Regions from separate parts of the Homo sapiens genome. Here region 1 is linked to region 2. The links come from fine-mapping of genetic effects on plasma protein levels. A gene starts in region 2. The other region holds a variant in brackets. All regions are shown on one strand. Distances are between the middles of the regions.

Region 1 (8,000 bases), 190 kb before region 2:
GCAGAGTGGGCCTGAAAAGGCCTGGAATGTGGACTAAGGCAGGCTTAGCTGAGCCAGTGCTGGCACTCAGTGGGAGGGGATGATTCACCAGGAGACTTTTCAATGGATGGACACAGGGAATTTGGCAGGAAACAAGAGTATAGGTCAGCTCAAAAGGTCAGATATACAAAGAAGTGGATAGAGAGTAGTGAGGGCTGAGGGGAAGAGGTCAGATACTCTGGGGAATGCTCTTGGAAATGAAAGGCACCTTGAATAAAGGGGGTGTAGGGGTGACTCTGGGAAAGAAAATTAGGGAAGAGGTTTCAGAGTCAGAGGTTGTATGGGCTGAAGAAGGGGACAGACATGGGCCTCTTTCCTGAAGCACACCTCTACAATTCTCTCTCTAGGTAGCCGAGAGGCAGCTTTTGTATATGCCATCTCATCAGCAGGGGTAGTCCACGCTATTACTCGCGCCTGTAGCCAGGGTGAACTGAGTGTGTGCAGCTGTGACCCCTACACCCGTGGCCGACACCATGACCAGCGTGGGGACTTTGACTGGGGTGGCTGCAGTGACAACATCCACTACGGTGTCCGTTTTGCCAAGGCCTTCGTGGATGCCAAGGAGAAGAGGCTTAAGGATGCCCGGGCCCTCATGAACTTACATAATAACCGCTGTGGTCGCACGGTCAGTACTCATGTCTGTGTAAGTACACTCATATTTGCTGGGGGTGACCAGTGTGTGTGACCATGGACTAAATAAATGTGAAGATGGAAGAGCTGAAGGCTTCTGGGTCACTTCCAAAAGCCCCAACATCCTGGGACAGGAGAACTAAATGCAAGGGAGCTTAGGAATGCCTAGGGTCAATCAGGTGCGTGAAGAGTCTTCACATAGGTGGAAAGTAGGAAAAGGTGGAGAAAAGAAGTAACTTTTTAAGAAGGAAAAGAACTGCCTTCATAAAGACTGAGAGGATAAGAGGTTGTTCTAGTCAGTTCCCTGGTATTTGAACATCTTCTATGTGCCTAGTACTATGCTGGAAAATGGCACACCACTAAAGTAGAAGGCATGGTACCTGGCACTCTAAAACGTGAAAAGTAGAGGATGTGCAAGCACACTGTCATCGTGAACAGAATCCTGTGGCTCTACAGTTCAGTGGGCTGTCATGAAAAGGAAAGCACTGTTGGTTCAGGCAGATTTCCTGGAAAAAGAGTTTCTTGAACTTGATCAGGAAGAATGGGTGGGATCTGATGTGGGAGAGAACCGAGAGCTCAATCGGCCAGCCAGGGCCAGGTCCAGCCTATCTCAGAGCACTCATCCTTTTGGACCTAGGGATGACTAAAATGTGTCCTGACCAGCTACTTCTCCCTTAACTGCCTTCCCCCTCCCCCAGGCTGTGCGGCGGTTTCTGAAGCTGGAGTGTAAGTGCCATGGCGTGAGTGGTTCCTGTACTCTGCGCACCTGCTGGCGTGCACTCTCAGATTTCCGCCGCACAGGTGATTACCTGCGGCGACGCTATGATGGGGCTGTGCAGGTGATGGCCACCCAAGATGGTGCCAACTTCACCGCAGCCCGCCAAGGCTATCGCCGTGCCACCCGGACTGATCTTGTCTACTTTGACAACTCTCCAGATTACTGTGTCTTGGACAAGGCTGCAGGTGAGTAAGGAAGGCAGGCAGGGACATGCAGTCCCAGTTCTTAGTGCAGGCACCCCTGGTTAATCATGGTCTGTTCAGTCTCAGGAGTTAGGGAAGGGGGTGCTGTGGGAGGAGGCAGTTTCCTCTCCACATGAACACCTGGTCATGAGATTGTTGCAGTCCACCAGGCCCAGTGCTGCCCAAGTAGAGAGGAGGTCACTCAGCTCCTTGAGGCCTGAGGTCATGCATCGCTCCTTTGTATCCCAGCATCTGGGATACAGTAGGCATTATTCAGGGTATGTTTAACTTAGTTACCTGTTTTCAGTTTTAAGCAATGTGTGGGCTGCACAGAAACATAAGATGCAGCCCTAAGCCTTTGGCTCTTCGCAATCTACTTAAAGAAATGAGACATAATGGGTAGACAAATGCAAAGAGAGATGGAGAAATCAATAAAGTTTATTTGAAAATGTAGGGAAAAAAAAGAAACTAGAATTTAAGCTGCTCCTTGAAGTGTAGGGAGTATCTGGATAGCTTGAGAGACGAGTGGGCAATTTCTTATCAGAGAGTAGTAGGTGGGAAAGCACATGATCTGTCCCAGGGACAGAGAACAGACCAATCTGCTGGGTAAAGGTTCTCTCTAAGGGAGATTAAAGCTAGAAAGATGTCCTTGAAAGGCTTTATCCAGTGTGCTGCCATTGAAGATTCTGAAACAGCTGAAAAAGAAACGAAGAAGAGATCCCTACCAAAGGCAGGTAAAGCAGCAAATGGTTGTTTTTCAGTCTGTTCGAGGTATTTGTGGTGGGATTCTTGGAGGTGCTGGAAGTTGATATGGTTTTTCCCCAAGGGAATGAAAGTTACCATCCTGGCTCACATTTCTGGTTCAGATAGGTTAAACTAGGAACATGCAATGCAGCAGAACTCTTCTCCTCTGGTTATTGCTGTGGGGCTCCCAGGCTCTTTTCTACAGGCTCAGCGTCAGGACTTGGGTGAAGTGGAGCCAAAAAACCTCAGCTATCTTCGGTACTGTTTGTTTTCACCCATCACTGTCATTCCTGGAAGAGTCAAGTGGCTTGGAGTAAAACTGGGCACAGAAAAAGGGTGGGGCTCTACCCAATTAATGAAGAAAGTAGTCTGTATACTTTGTAGGGTGCTAGAAGAAAAAAACTTGGAGCCCTTCTGATTTTCCTAGTGATTTCCTGCCACTAAGTATACTTTCCTCCCACTTGGTCTAATTCAGAGGGTCACTCTCTGGATACCTAGAAATAATTCCATAACATCTGAGGTGTAAACCTATACTACCATACTGAAAATACACCTTTAGGGAAGGAACTTTGGAGTTAGGAGGGAGGATAAGTCAAATGTGTGTTCGTTTTTCTCAGAGGCATAAAATTAGGCCTCCTAAAACCCAAAGTGGGCCCTGGAATTCAAAGAATATAAGTCATCCCAGAAAGAATATGGAGCCAGGAATTCCCTCCAAAGCAATAGAGTCCAATTGAACTTTCTGTGATGATAGAAATGTTTTCCTATCTCTGTTGTCCAATACAGTAGCAACTAGCCACATGTGATTACTGAGTACTTGGAATATAACTAGTGTGACTGAGGAGCTAAATTTTTTAGTTTAATTTTCATTAATTTAGATGTAAAAGACCATATGTGACTAGTGGCTGCTACCCTGGACAGCACAGCTCCACAGTGTAGAAGGGGTTTTTGGTGCCCAAGAGGACTTAAGACCCAGCCCTTGGAGTTAGGAGACTAACATATACAGTAGACCTAGTCAGTCCACATTCCAGACCAGTGGTCTCCTAACATTCTGGATCCTTTACTCCTATCATTAAAACAATTTGAGCATATATCTCCATTATATGTATATTTATTTATACCTGTGTTCCACTATATGAATATGTATATTATAAAACGTAAATATTTTAAATTGATGAGATAAAAAACATAGAAGTTCTAGCATTTTCCTCCC[G/C]TATCCCAGTGACATTTGGAGACTAATTCTGTAGAAATCAGTTAATCTATTCTCCGTTTTGAACCTAGGCTAGTCAGTTTCCCATCTCTGGATTCTTATTAACCATGGAAAAGCTTGGAGTAGATGCTCTCATGGGCCCAACTCATCCAAAAGTCTATTGATTTTATGATCTGTTGGCAGGATCTCTTTTGCTAAAATCAGTCAGAATGAGGTTCTAAGCATTCCCTATGCATGGGGAAAACATGATCCCTATCCTAGAGTTTCCACTGTAAGGGGAAGGGATAATGCTTAGGGATAATAGCAATAATAATAATGCAAGGGATATTACTTAGGAATTCCTTAGGAATATGCCTCCAGCCAGTCATGGTAATCAGTTCACCTCTTCAGATGAACAGAGATTATATCTAACAATCTATTATTGTGCTTATTTTCATATGAGAAACTAAGTTAATGTTTCATTTTGACTAAATCACACAACTAAGAGTGGTAGAACTGGGATTTGAATCCAGACAAGATGATGTCAGAGCCCATGCTTCTTTTTTTTTTTTTTTTTTTTGGAGACAGAGTTTCACTGTCACCCAGGCTAGAGTGCAGTGGTGCAATCTTGGCTCACTGCAGCCTCGACCTCCCAGCCTCGTGTTACTTTCACCTCAGCCTCCTGAGTATCTAGGACTACAGGCTCATGCCCATGGCACCTGGCTAATTTTTTAAGTTTTTGTAGAGACAGGGCTTGCTATGTTTCCCAGGCTGGTCTTGAATTCCTGGACTCAAGGATTCCTTCTGCCTTGGCCTTCCAAAATGCTGGGATGATAGGCATGAGTGAGCCACTGTGCCCAGCCCAAAAAAGCGATTCTTTTTATCTTCCTTCTGAGAATGTGGTTAAGGGTATCCAGGGCAGCTGAAGAGATAACTTTGTTCTCACTCCCTCTCTTCCCCAACCCAGGTTCCCTAGGCACTGCAGGCCGTGTCTGCAGCAAGACATCAAAAGGAACAGACGGTTGTGAAATCATGTGCTGTGGCCGAGGGTACGACACAACTCGAGTCACCCGTGTTACCCAGTGTGAGTGCAAATTCCACTGGTGCTGTGCTGTACGGTGCAAGGAATGCAGAAATACTGTGGACGTCCATACTTGCAAAGCCCCCAAGAAGGCAGAGTGGCTGGACCAAACCTGAACACACAGATACCTCACTCATCCCTCCAATTCAAGCCTCTCAACTCAAAAGCACAAGATCCTTGCATGCACACCTTCCTCCACCCTCCACCCTGGGCTGCTACCGCTTCTATTTAAGGATGTAGAGAGTAATCCATAGGGACCATGGTGTCCTGGCTGGTTCCTTAGCCCTGGGAAGGAGTTGTCAGGGGATATAAGAAACTGAGCAAGCTCCCTGATTTCCCGCTCTGGAGATTTGAAGGGAGAGTAGAAGAGATAGGGGGTCTTTAGAGTGAAATGAGTTGCACTAAAGTACGTAGTTGAGGCTCCTTTTTTCTTTCCTTTGCACCAGCTTCCCGATACTTCTTGGTGTGCAAGAGGAAGGGTACCTGTAGAGAGCTTCTTTTTGTTTCTACCTGGCCAAAGTTAGATGGGACAAAGATGAATGGCATGTCCCTTCTCTGAAGTCCGTTTGAGCAGAACTACCTGGTACCCCGAAAGAAAATCTTAGGCTACCACATTCTATTATTGAGAGCCTGAGATGTTAGCCATAGTGGACAAGGTTCCATTCACATGCTCATATGTTTATAAACTGTGTTTTGTAGAAGAAAAAGAATCATAACAATACAAACACACATTCATTCTCTCTTTTTCTCTCTACCATTCTCAACCTGTATTGGACAGCACTGCCTCTTTTGCTTACTTGCTGCCTGTTCAAACTGAGGTGGAATGCAGTGGTTCCCATGCTTAACAAATCATTAAAACACCCTAGAACACTCCTAGGATAGATTAATGTAGTAAGTCTGGCTAGGCCTTGTGTTGCCTTTTTTTTTTTTTTTTTTTTCTTTTCTTTTCTTCTCTTCCCATGCACTATTCTGGAGGTTTGCCAGGTTTGGGGAGACATGGAGTAAAAGAAAGATAGGCAACTCATGGATGGTGGGAGAGCAGGTAAGCAGGTCTGATCTCAAGGGCCCACATGAGGCATCAGTATATATTAGGCAGGTAGGGATCTCTGGCTTTGGTAATTCTTTATGAGAGGATCCTAGCCTTTGAAGCTGGGAGCAGGAGTCAGTGGCTACAGTGGGAAGGAGTACTGCAGGTTGGGGCCAAAGTGATACACAGCTTAGAAGGCAGCCTTCCTCCACTTACTCAACAAATCTTTATTTAGTGACTCTCCAAGTCCTAGTGATTATTATTATTGTTCACTCCACATTTGGCTTAATGGGTAATGCTATTACCCATTGCCTAACTAGGTTTGCAGTAGTGGAATCTCCAGAGATAGCAGGCTTAGTAAGCTGGAGGTAGGACATGAAGTCCCCCAAAACTTGATGTCCTATTTTTATGTGAGTTGGACAGTGGTTATCTTTTGCCTGTTGATATCTTAAAGCAGCAGAGTGGTATAGAAATTTGCGGTTATGACAGACCCGGGTTAAAAATCACAGCTGTGCCATTTGCTTTGATATTTTGAGCAAGGTAGCTAAATTTTCTGAGCTTCTATTTTCTCATCTGTAAAATGAGGATACGTACCTGTTCTTTTTTTTCTTTCTTTTTATTTCTTTTAGAGATAGGGTCTCGCTTTGTTGCCCAGGCTGGAGTGCACTGGCATGATCATGGCTCACTGCAGCCTCAAATTCCCAGGCTCAAGCAATCCTCCCACCTCAGCCTCCCCATTAGCTGGGACTACAGGGCCATGCCATCATGCCCAGCTAATTTAAACATAGTTTTCAGAGATGGAGCTCACTATGTTGCCCAGGCTGGTCTTGAATTCTTGGTCTCAAGCAATCCTCCCACTGCAGCCTTCCAAAGTGCTGGGCGTACAAGCGCAAGCCACTGTGCCCAGCTGTCAGACGCTGAGTTTTAATTATGCACCAAACTCCAGCCCGCAGATCCTCTTCACCAAAGCCCCTGGCTGGTCTAGCCCATCATGACTTCTCTAGGAACAGTCCTTCTTTAGGACTATAAAGTATTAACAAAAGTCTGTAGATTAAGGAGCCTGCATAAAGAATTCTGGATACAGGCCCCTGTCTTTCCAAAGTTCCTCTCCAATATCCCTTGGGGTCCTCATGTTTTTGAAGCAGCTTCACTCTGCACAGGCAGCAGGAGGTTGGGGGAGCCATAGCTCTGGGCCACGGGGGCAGATTTATTTGGATGATAGGACTAATATTTGTGTAACCTGCTGAGACCTGTGTGGGAGAGTTTAGGGTGGTTTTTCTTTTGGTGAGGGGATTTGCTCTGGTTTCACATCCATTAACACAAAACATGAGCTAGTCAGGGCCCTTGTGGTCTGCGGTAAGGGGATGCCTGTGGAGAAATGGGCCTGAGTGAGTCAGGCCAAGAGAATGTCTTCCTTCAGAATGGAGTCAACTGGATAACTGATGAGCCAATGGTGGGATTAAGGAGGGGGAAATGGGAGGGGAAGAGAACAGCTGACATCTTGAGGAAAGCTTTGGGGTAGTGGAGAGGTAAGGGGGTCATGGTCAGTCTGAACTCAACAATAGGGCTGAATGAATTTACCAAAGGAAGCTGCCTTATATTATATGCCAGGCTGCTGGGGAAAGCCTCAGGTCCTGGCCAGCCCCTGTTCTCACAAGAACATGCAGGTTACCACATAAATAATGGCATATGCCTTCCATAGGACGTCAACCTGACTTAAATCTACCTATACCCTACTCTCTATTCTTTGGTTTTTGGTTCTCATCCCTGTGGAAGGAAATGGGCCTCTTCTGGCATCTCATGCTACTCTGTGCTTTTCCTTGGGCTCCAAATTCTAGCTCATAAAGATGCAAGTTTTGCAATTTCCTATAAATGGTTAAGAAAAGAGCAAGCTGTCCAGAGAGTGAGAAGTTTGAAAAGAGAGGTGCATAAGAGAGAAATGATGTCCATTTGAGCCCCACCACGGAGGTTATGTGGTCCCAAAAGGAATGATGGCCAAGCAATTAATTTTTCCTCCTAGTTCTTAGCTTGCTTCTGCATTGATTGGCTTTACACAACTGGCATTTAGTCTGCATTACACAAATAGACACTAATTTATTTGGAACAAGCAGCAAAATGAGAACTTTATTTGGTGCAGTCAGGGCTCCATTTAGTTCCCTCACTCTGCTTCTAATCACCCCTTCTCCCAGCCCTCTTCTATTTGATAGAGGTCTGTCCCTCAGATCAGCAATGTCTTAGCCCCTCTCCTCTCTTCCATTCCTTCCTGTTGGTACTCATTTCTTCTAACTTTTAATAAACATTTAGGTATAATACATTACAGTAAGTGCTATTTA
Region 2 (8,000 bases):
CCTCATCAGACACAACCCTATGGGTCCTCCCTCACCAGGAGATATTACTGTTTCCCCTAACACACGGCAGTAGCTGGAGAGAAGTTCCCTTTGCCCGTCTGCAACCCCTCAGAGGGTGCATTCTTCCCCAGGGGCTCCAGCCTGGCAGCCGTACCCACCTGCTTCATCTTGGCCAGCTCTCTCCTGGTGTGCTCGTCTTGCCTCAGGTCCTTCTTATTCCCCACCAGGATGATGGGCACGTTGGGGCAGAAGTGCTTCACCTCTGGGGTCCACTTCTCAGGAATGTTTTCTGTGTAGACATGCACCAACAGGTGTCGGTGCCTCCACTTAAGCTAGAAAGCTCCCCTGGGGGGGCCCTCATCTTCCCAGAGCAGTCTTAGAAGCCATTCAGCATGATGGTCCCTTTCACAGCTCAAAACCTCAACAGTAGTATGCCCTCAGAGGGCCAGTTACCACAGTAAAGGAGACCAACAGGGCCTGAGTGCTCCCCTGCATCCCCACCCCCACCTCTGAAGATGACTGAAGACAGGCCAAGGCACGAGACCTCTGGCTGATTCCAAGGGGTTCTCAGTCCCCTCCCTCCAATCCCCTCACCCAGGCTGTCAGGGCTGTCGATGGAGAAGCACATGAGGATGACATCAGTGTCCGGGTAGGAGAGAGGCCGCAGTCGATCATAGTCTTCCTGCCCTGCTGTGTCCCACAGAGCCAGCTCCACCTGACACACAGGGCCAGTGAGTAGCTGGCCTGAGGGCCCCAACCCTGCCACCCAAAGGTCCCCTGAAACCACTGTCCTTCGGGCTCACTGAACTTCTTTATTTGAGCACCTGCTATGCACCAGGCATTATATTAATCACTGTCCCACAACATAAATTAGGTCAGTTTGTTAAAGAAATCTAAGACGTGTTTGACCCTTGAGTTGCCACTGTGAGCACCATTATTTTGGTTAATTCTCACAACAACCCTTTGAGGGAGGTCTTACCATCATCCCCATTTTGCAGGTGGGGGAGCTTAAACCCAGAGGCAAAGGGACTCGGCCCAGGTTACAGAGCCAGTCTGTGGGAGAACCAGAAAGTATATCCAGGTTTTTTAAGACTGCAGATTTACTTCCTAACTTTTACTGGTTCCAGCAGGGAGAATGAAGCAAAGACAGGGGTAGGAATGGGGAAGGACATACTAGGTCATTCAGTGACTGGGGGGCGGGGTCTCAGGGTGGGGTGGGAAGGGCATTTCTGCCTTCACCTGCTTGCCGTCCACCTCAATGTCCGCAATATAGTTCTCAAAGACAGTAGGGACGTAGACCTCCGGAAACTGATCCTTGCTGAAGACGATGAGGAGGCAGGTCTTCCCACAGGCACCATCCCCAACGATCACCAGCTTCTTTCGGATTGCAGCCATGGTGGGGCTGCCAGGAAAGACGTATTGGGGATTTGAGGAAAAGCCATTAAGTCCAAAAACACTTCTCTAGGGCCCCCAAACCTCCCTGGAAACCGAGGCATCTAGCAAAGGGACAGGGGGCTTGCTCAGGCATGTTCTGGCAAAACACCAATTGTGCGACAACAGAGCTTGAAATTCCTAATCTCTGGGTCAGGGACAGGTCTCCCTCGATGGGTTAGAATACAGTGGTGGGAGGTAGATGATGACCCCACTTGGGAGCTGGAAAACATGAGTTTCAATCTAATCCACTTGCCAACCTGGGGACTCCAGGTAGCTAGAGAGCTGCTCAGGGATGCGGGACGTCCAGGGAGCAAGCTTCTATCTACTTCACACATCAGGGTTTCGAGTCAGACTTCATTGGTTACCAGGATTTTGATGCATTTACAGTTTAATAATCTCTAAGGTCCAATCTAGAACAGACTGTCCCTCAGCACAAGTCATACCTGTCCAGTCACAAATGAGGAGTCCCTCTCTAGGACCAGAGTAGCAGAACCAGCTACCAGGTGGTAGGTGGGTAAAGGAAGAATAGTTATAGAGCCCCTAGGTGCCAGGCACTCTGTCGGGCATTTTGGCAGGAATTATCTCCTTCGGTACCCAGATGCCTGGAAGGTAGATGGTGCACTTTCCATTTTGACAAACCAGGAAACTAAGGCTCAGTGAGGTTAAGACAGATTCAGAGCTGTGGCTTATAAGGGGCAGGGACAGCACCCAAAGCAGGACTGTGTGACTCAAAGTCGTGCCTCTTCGACATGTCACCTCAGGGGCAGGAGGGAGAGCAGAAGCAGGGAAACCCAGACAGAGGACAGGGGTAGCAGCCAGCCAGCTTCCCTGGTCCACCCCACCCGGTCCCCAAAGCCCCAAGTAATACAAAGGAGGCTCAGTCCCAGCAATGCCCACAGCTCGAGTTTGGGCAGGCTGCCTTCCTCCCCCCTTCCTCCTAGGCCTGCCAGCAACACTGGGTCACTCAGCCCCCGGCAGGGGACAATGACCACACTGTAGGGAGCCACACATCTACCACAGCACAGTGACTGAGAAGAATCCACCAGGGAATCACCTCCACCCACTCTGGAACAGCCCCTTCCTCCCTCAGTCCAGCTCACCCGCATGCCCTGCCCACCCCTCCCTGTGACTCAGGGCAAGGAGTCAGCTTCCCGGGCTTCCATGTGTCCCCCACCCCCAGCACACACAGCGAGCATCTGCACAGTTCATCACACCTTCGCAGCTTCCCTCACTTCCTCCTTCCCTGGGGAGGGGAACTGACCTCCAGCCGGCTGAAGTTCCCAGGCTGCAGGAAGAGAGGGCGGGCTCTGGAGCTGAGATGAAGTCAAGGCTGTTGGGAAGGGGGAGGGGGCTAGAGTCTGGGCTGGGAGGAGCCCCAAAAGAAGAGACAAATGAGGGCCAGTCCCAGCACCAACCAGGCAGGGAGCAGTTAAGAAAGCGACGGTAACCTGATCTCAGCCTCAAACCTAGCTTTTTCTCTCAGTCCCACATCCTGTCAAACTGGGCTGACTGAACGCCTCTACTCCCCACACCCCACCACCACCTCACACTGCCCTTTAGGAAGCGAATACTCCAGCCCCAGGCCTCTTCCCTTCAACATAGATCCTGAGTGGCCCTTCCCTTGCCTCCAGACACATTCACAAAACTGTTGGTTTTGTGGACATGAGTCAGAGAATTTACAGGAGTTCAAAGTACACAGCCACACTCTTCCCACCACAAAACGGACTCTCTCTGATTCCCCAGAAGACAAGCAAGAAGGCATTCACCCTGTCGGCAGATCGCCTCCAGAAATGGAAACCATCCTCCAAAAAGAGGGTTCCTTGGGAATTCTATCCCGGTGACTGACGCTGGGATTTCTTCCAACTCCTCCACCCACTCCATTAGTTCACCTTGCCCTGTTTTGTAAAGATGGGCTGGGGTAGCCCCAACCTGGGGTGGGCAGTGTTGATGGAGGGCAATCACTACTGGGGTGAAAGCCAGTCACTTAGGCATGAGTATGCCACTGCTGTCCCCCCAGCAGGGTAATTCAGACGGCACCAGAGTGGTGGGAGGCAGAGGACAGAAACCCGGGGTTGAGGCATGCGTTAAGGGACCTGGAGCCTCCAGCCCAATTAGAAGACTTTCCCTCCAGGCTATGATTGGGCCAGAACAGCAGGCAGCCCAGGCCAGGACACTAGGCCCAAGGCCAAGATGGCATGGACAACTCCCTGTGAGAGGCAGCCCCAGAGGGACTGTCCCACTGACCCCTTAAGAGGGGCAACTGAGCCCCACACAGGGCCTGGAATGGAGCCTGGAACTTCTGGGGCCTTCCCCAAGACAAGACAGTGTGGCTACATCAGACCTCTCTCCAATCGCTCTCTTGAATTCCCAGATGATCCAGAGCGGCCGGTTGACTTTGCCGGCCCACCCTACACCTAGGGAAGGAATCCGTTCTGGAGATACCAAGAGATACTGCATTCTCAACTTTAAAACCAGAGTGAGGGCGGGACTCGGCCTCGGGATCCCAGTCCCAAACCCCAGGATACTCTTTCTTGGTTCGAGTATGAAGAAGGAGGATTCTCAATCTCATTTTCTCTCTCTCTCTCTCTCTCTACACACACACACACACACACACACACACACACACCACACACACACACACACACACACACACACACACACACACACACACACACACACACACACACACACACACACACAGAGTTGGATCCTTCCCCATCTCCCTTATCCTCAACACAAGCGGGCTCCAGGAACCGTCCAGGGCGGCGTCCAGACCCTGCCGAGCAGTGGCAGGCCCCAATGGTCACATCCCGCCCCTATTCCCGCCATACCTCCCTCCTGGCCTGGAGGAATTCCCACCCCATCCCACTCTAGGTCCCCTGCGGCCGCCCACCCTGGGGGCTGGGGCGTCTGAGTTGAAGTTCCCTCGCCCCTCGCCCGGCGGGGCAGGTTCCGGGAAGCTGGGAGGAGAAGGGAAGGGGCTCCGACTCGGACCTCAGGAGGCCAGAGCCCCTGCCGGCAGGTCCGGGCCCCCTCGCTGCAGCCCGGGGAGGGGCCGACGCGGTCCGACCACCGCCCAGCCCGGATGCCGACTCCGCTTGGAGGGAACGGGGTCCACGCCCAGGCCGAAGCCCCTCCTCGCACGGGCCCCGATCTCCGGGCCAGCGAGGAAGGGAAAGTGCTCTCCTGGGGACGAGTTCCCAAGACGCCCCACCGCCCGCAGCCCCGGCCCAGGGTACCTTCCGCTCCGCCGCCTCCAGCTGCGCGGCCGGTGCCGGAGGCTCAGACTGACCCCAGGGCCCCGCCCCGCCCTCCTCCAGCGCCGCGGCGGGGAGGGCGGGCCCGGCAGGGGGAGGGTCGGCCGGGGGCGGCCCTTGGCTCGGCCCGCCCCGGCCCCGCGCAGGGCCGCAGCCACCGGCCCCCTCCGCAGGCCGGGGACTGGGGGCCAGGGGCGTCCACCCCTCCAGGTCGGGGAGAGCCACGGGGAGATTCCTGGACTGCGGAGGAGCCGGGCGAGCGGGGGGAGCACGACCCGGGTGGACTCAGACTCTGCCCAGCCTTCAATCCCCTAGGGGAGGACCGGCGTCGGGAAAGTTAAGAGGTGCTCGGGGTGGGGTCAGGAAGGGCCGCTGCTGCCCTCCTGTGGCCAAGCGGCCACCCGCTCCTGCTGCACCTGGGACCTCGCGGGAAGCGGGACTGGGAAAGGGTATCCGCCGGGAGGTCCCAGGGCCCGGCGCGGGTGTGTTGGTTGGGGGGAGATGTCCACCCTCTTGTTCCTAGGATCGTACAGCCCAACGTCATCCCCCAAACTTGAAGACCTCTCAGAGCCGTTCAGACCCAGACCACCGTTCCTCCTCACAATTCGCTTTCTTCCCTGGGCCTGGAATTTCCAGGAGTCCAATTCCTACCTACTCCTCAAAGGGTGCGCCTAGAAATGCTTCTGGATCCCAGCTGTGAATTCTGTTCCCACTCCTAGGTCTGACTTGGCGCATAGGATATTTACCTACACGCGTATCTCCTTTCCCTGTAAGGGAGCTGAGGAGGTGGGAGTAGAATGAGGACGTCCACCAACATTTCATTGGCTTGTGCTTGGGACACTACACAGCTTAACCCTTTCAATATTCATCACAGATCTCTGGGGAAAATATACCCATCCCCTTTTGCCCATAGAGAAGCTGAGGTTCAGAGAAATCAAGTGGCTTACACAACTGTTTTTGACTTGTGACAGCAAGAATTCACACAGCCGGGCCTGTCTGGCTCCAAACTGGTGGTCTGGCCCTGCTACCTCACGGGCTCCTCCAGCCTGTCCCTTCCCCCGTTGTCTAGCAGAGTGAGTGGCACATAATAGGTTGTCAACAAATATTTGATGAATGAATGAATGTTAGGAGTCATACAGACTTTAAATATCTGAAGTGCAATCCAGACATTTGACAAATGTGAAAACAGGTCCGCAGCAGTTTGGCCCCAGGCCTCTTAACTGACTCAATGAACATTTCTCGAGGGTGAACTGAGAGCTATGTTCGGAAGATCCATTTCTGCCTTCAAACAACTTAGAGTCTAAATGAGGAATGCAATTTCAAGATAGCTAACATTTATTGAATCCATATTACATGGACCTGGGTCCACATACATTAACTACAAGAATCCCATGAGGTAGCTATCTCCATTTTACTGAGAAGCAAATTGAGGTTCAGAGAGGTTACAGAGCTAGTGCTGGGTCTGACACTAGAACCCAAACAGCTGAACTCTAGAGCCCCTGTTCTTAATTCCTACTCCCTACTGACTCCTAATGTAGACAGTTACAATACCGGAGGTCATTGCTGTAGTGTGGGCATGTGTGGGCTGTGCGATACCCAGTCCTGAACAACAGGTGAAGTTCTCAAGATAAGGTGATGTGTAGATTTTTTTAATTTTAATTTTTTTTTGAGACAAGGTCTCTGTTGCCTAAGTGTGCAGTGGCAAGATCTCAGCTCACTGCAGCCTCAACTTTCCAGGCTCCAATGATTTTCCCACTTCAGCTTCCCCAGCAGCTGAGACTACAGGCGTGTACCATCACACCTAATTTTTGTATTTTTTGTACAGATGAGGTCTTGCTATATTGCCCAGGCTGGTGAGGGGCCTTTTCTAATTATTTTGCTCATCTTTATTTTTGCTTCCCTTAACTTACTTTGGGTTTAATTTGCTGTTCTTTTTCTAGCCTCTTAAGGTGGAAACAGATCACTGATTTGAGATCTTTATTCTTTTCTACTATAAGCAATACTCTTAATTTCCTTGGATGCTTAACTGCTTCCCACAGGCACTCACCACTACATTCAGCTAATTTTTTATTTTTTTGTAGAGATGGGGTCTCACTATTGCCCAGGGTGGTCTTAAACTCCTGGGCTTAGCAGTCCTCTCACCTCTGCCTCCCAAAGTGTTGGGATTACAGGCGTGAACCACCGTGTCCAGCAGTAGATTTTGAATAAGTTGGAGCTACTAAAAGCCCACAGTTATGCAAACCCCAGGAAGTTGGTGGTGGTGGTAAAAAATGAAGCTGGAGAAGGAAGCAGTGGCTGGATCATGAAGGTCCTTATATGCCATGCACAGGAGTTGAGTGTTGATTTTGTTCTAGGCGCAATAAGGAGCCACTAAATTTAGGAGGCCAATATAGTAAAAGGTGGTGGTGACTGAAGGCGGGGAGAGATGGAGATAAGTAGAGAAATACTTTTAAAGGTCTATAGTCAACAATACTTAGTGATCAATTACCTTGATGAGAAAGAAATGAAAGCCAAGGGTGACCAACTCCAAGATTTCTAACTGGAGCAGCAGAGCTGGTGCCCATTGAGGGGATATACCAGGAGAAGGAACATGCTATGGAGGGCAGTCGTGAATTTAGTTTGAGGTATTTGAATTGAAGTGCCAGCAGGCTATCCAGGAGACATTCGGGAGATGACTGGTATGTGTGGGTCTAAAGCTCAGGAAGGGTCTGGGCAGATGGGTGAGGCCACAGAAGTGGATGATGACACTCACAGCAAATGCGTGGAGTGGAAAGAGTGGGGGTGGAATAAAGAACCTGGGGGACACCACATTTCTAGAACTGTTCTGGTGCTCTTTCCACCACCCCACAGAGCTTTCTTCTTATCTTTCAGTTTCTAGTCAAAGCAAATACAGACACACACCTTTATCCATCTCGTTTATTTGCCAATAGCTGTAATTTTGGATATAGCGGACATCCCTTCTTCAGTTAAGTTGCCACTAAAGAAGGGTCAGGGAGACAACTTCAGAATTTGGGCTGTGAGAGGAGTAAGTATGGAGAGGCTAGTGGGAGGGATGGTGTTCAGCCCCTCAGGAGTAACTGCCTGGCCCTCCCAGGGGGATGACGAAGACAGAGATGTCATCCCCGGAACCCAGCTTGTTGTTGGGGAGACGCCAGCCACGGTCTCGGGGGGTACCCCGGGCCCCCAGGACCAGAGCTTGGGCCAGAGCTGTATACCTGCCAGGAGCACACATGCACATTCATGTACCAACATGTATGTGGGAAGACAGATACACAGGCCCACATGTGGGGTCCCAAGCATTGCTTCCCT

Direction of the effects. Positions count from the first base shown, and alleles are read on the strand shown. Strength reflects both the effect of a copy and how common the allele is.
In carriers of allele C in region 1, the plasma level of the protein whose gene starts at base 4,723 in region 2 tends to be higher than with G alone (moderate association).

What was found. A credible set is the group of variants that fine-mapping cannot tell apart. PIP is the chance, under the fine-mapping model, that this variant and not a neighbour inherited with it causes the effect. The UK Biobank Pharma Proteomics Project read protein levels with antibody pairs (Olink). The fine-mapping took linkage between variants from a reference panel, not from the people measured, so its PIPs are less certain.
Region 1: its variant is the best candidate, but not a certain one, in a credible set for the plasma level of the RHOC protein (UK Biobank, PIP 0.61).

The regions. Positions count from the first base shown.
Region 1 is chr1:112,515,754-112,523,753 of GRCh38, forward strand. It overlaps WNT2B (Wnt family member 2B), which reads left to right. Exons shown (of 5, transcript NM_024494.3): 3 at 387-664; 4 at 1,368-1,632; 5 at 4,527-8,000. The coding sequence ends at 4,756. It overlaps ST7L (suppression of tumorigenicity 7 like), which reads right to left. Exons shown (of 15, transcript NM_017744.5): 15 at 7,761-8,000. Among named protein-coding and RNA genes, the nearest start is that of WNT2B, 11 kb to the left of the region's middle. The variant G/C (reference allele first, on the strand shown) is at 3,584.
Region 2 is chr1:112,702,405-112,710,404 of GRCh38, forward strand. It overlaps RHOC (ras homolog family member C), which reads right to left and starts at 4,723. Exons shown (of 6, transcript NM_175744.5): 1 at 4,674-4,723; 2 at 2,696-2,764; 3 at 1,240-1,402; 4 at 595-715; 5 at 159-289. The coding sequence starts at 1,395. PPM1J (protein phosphatase, Mg2+/Mn2+ dependent 1J) reads right to left here. Exons shown (of 10, transcript NM_005167.7): 10 at 7,594-7,906. The coding sequence ends at 7,759. RefSeq lists enhancers at 1,832-2,386, 3,134-3,183 and a silencer at 4,443-5,162.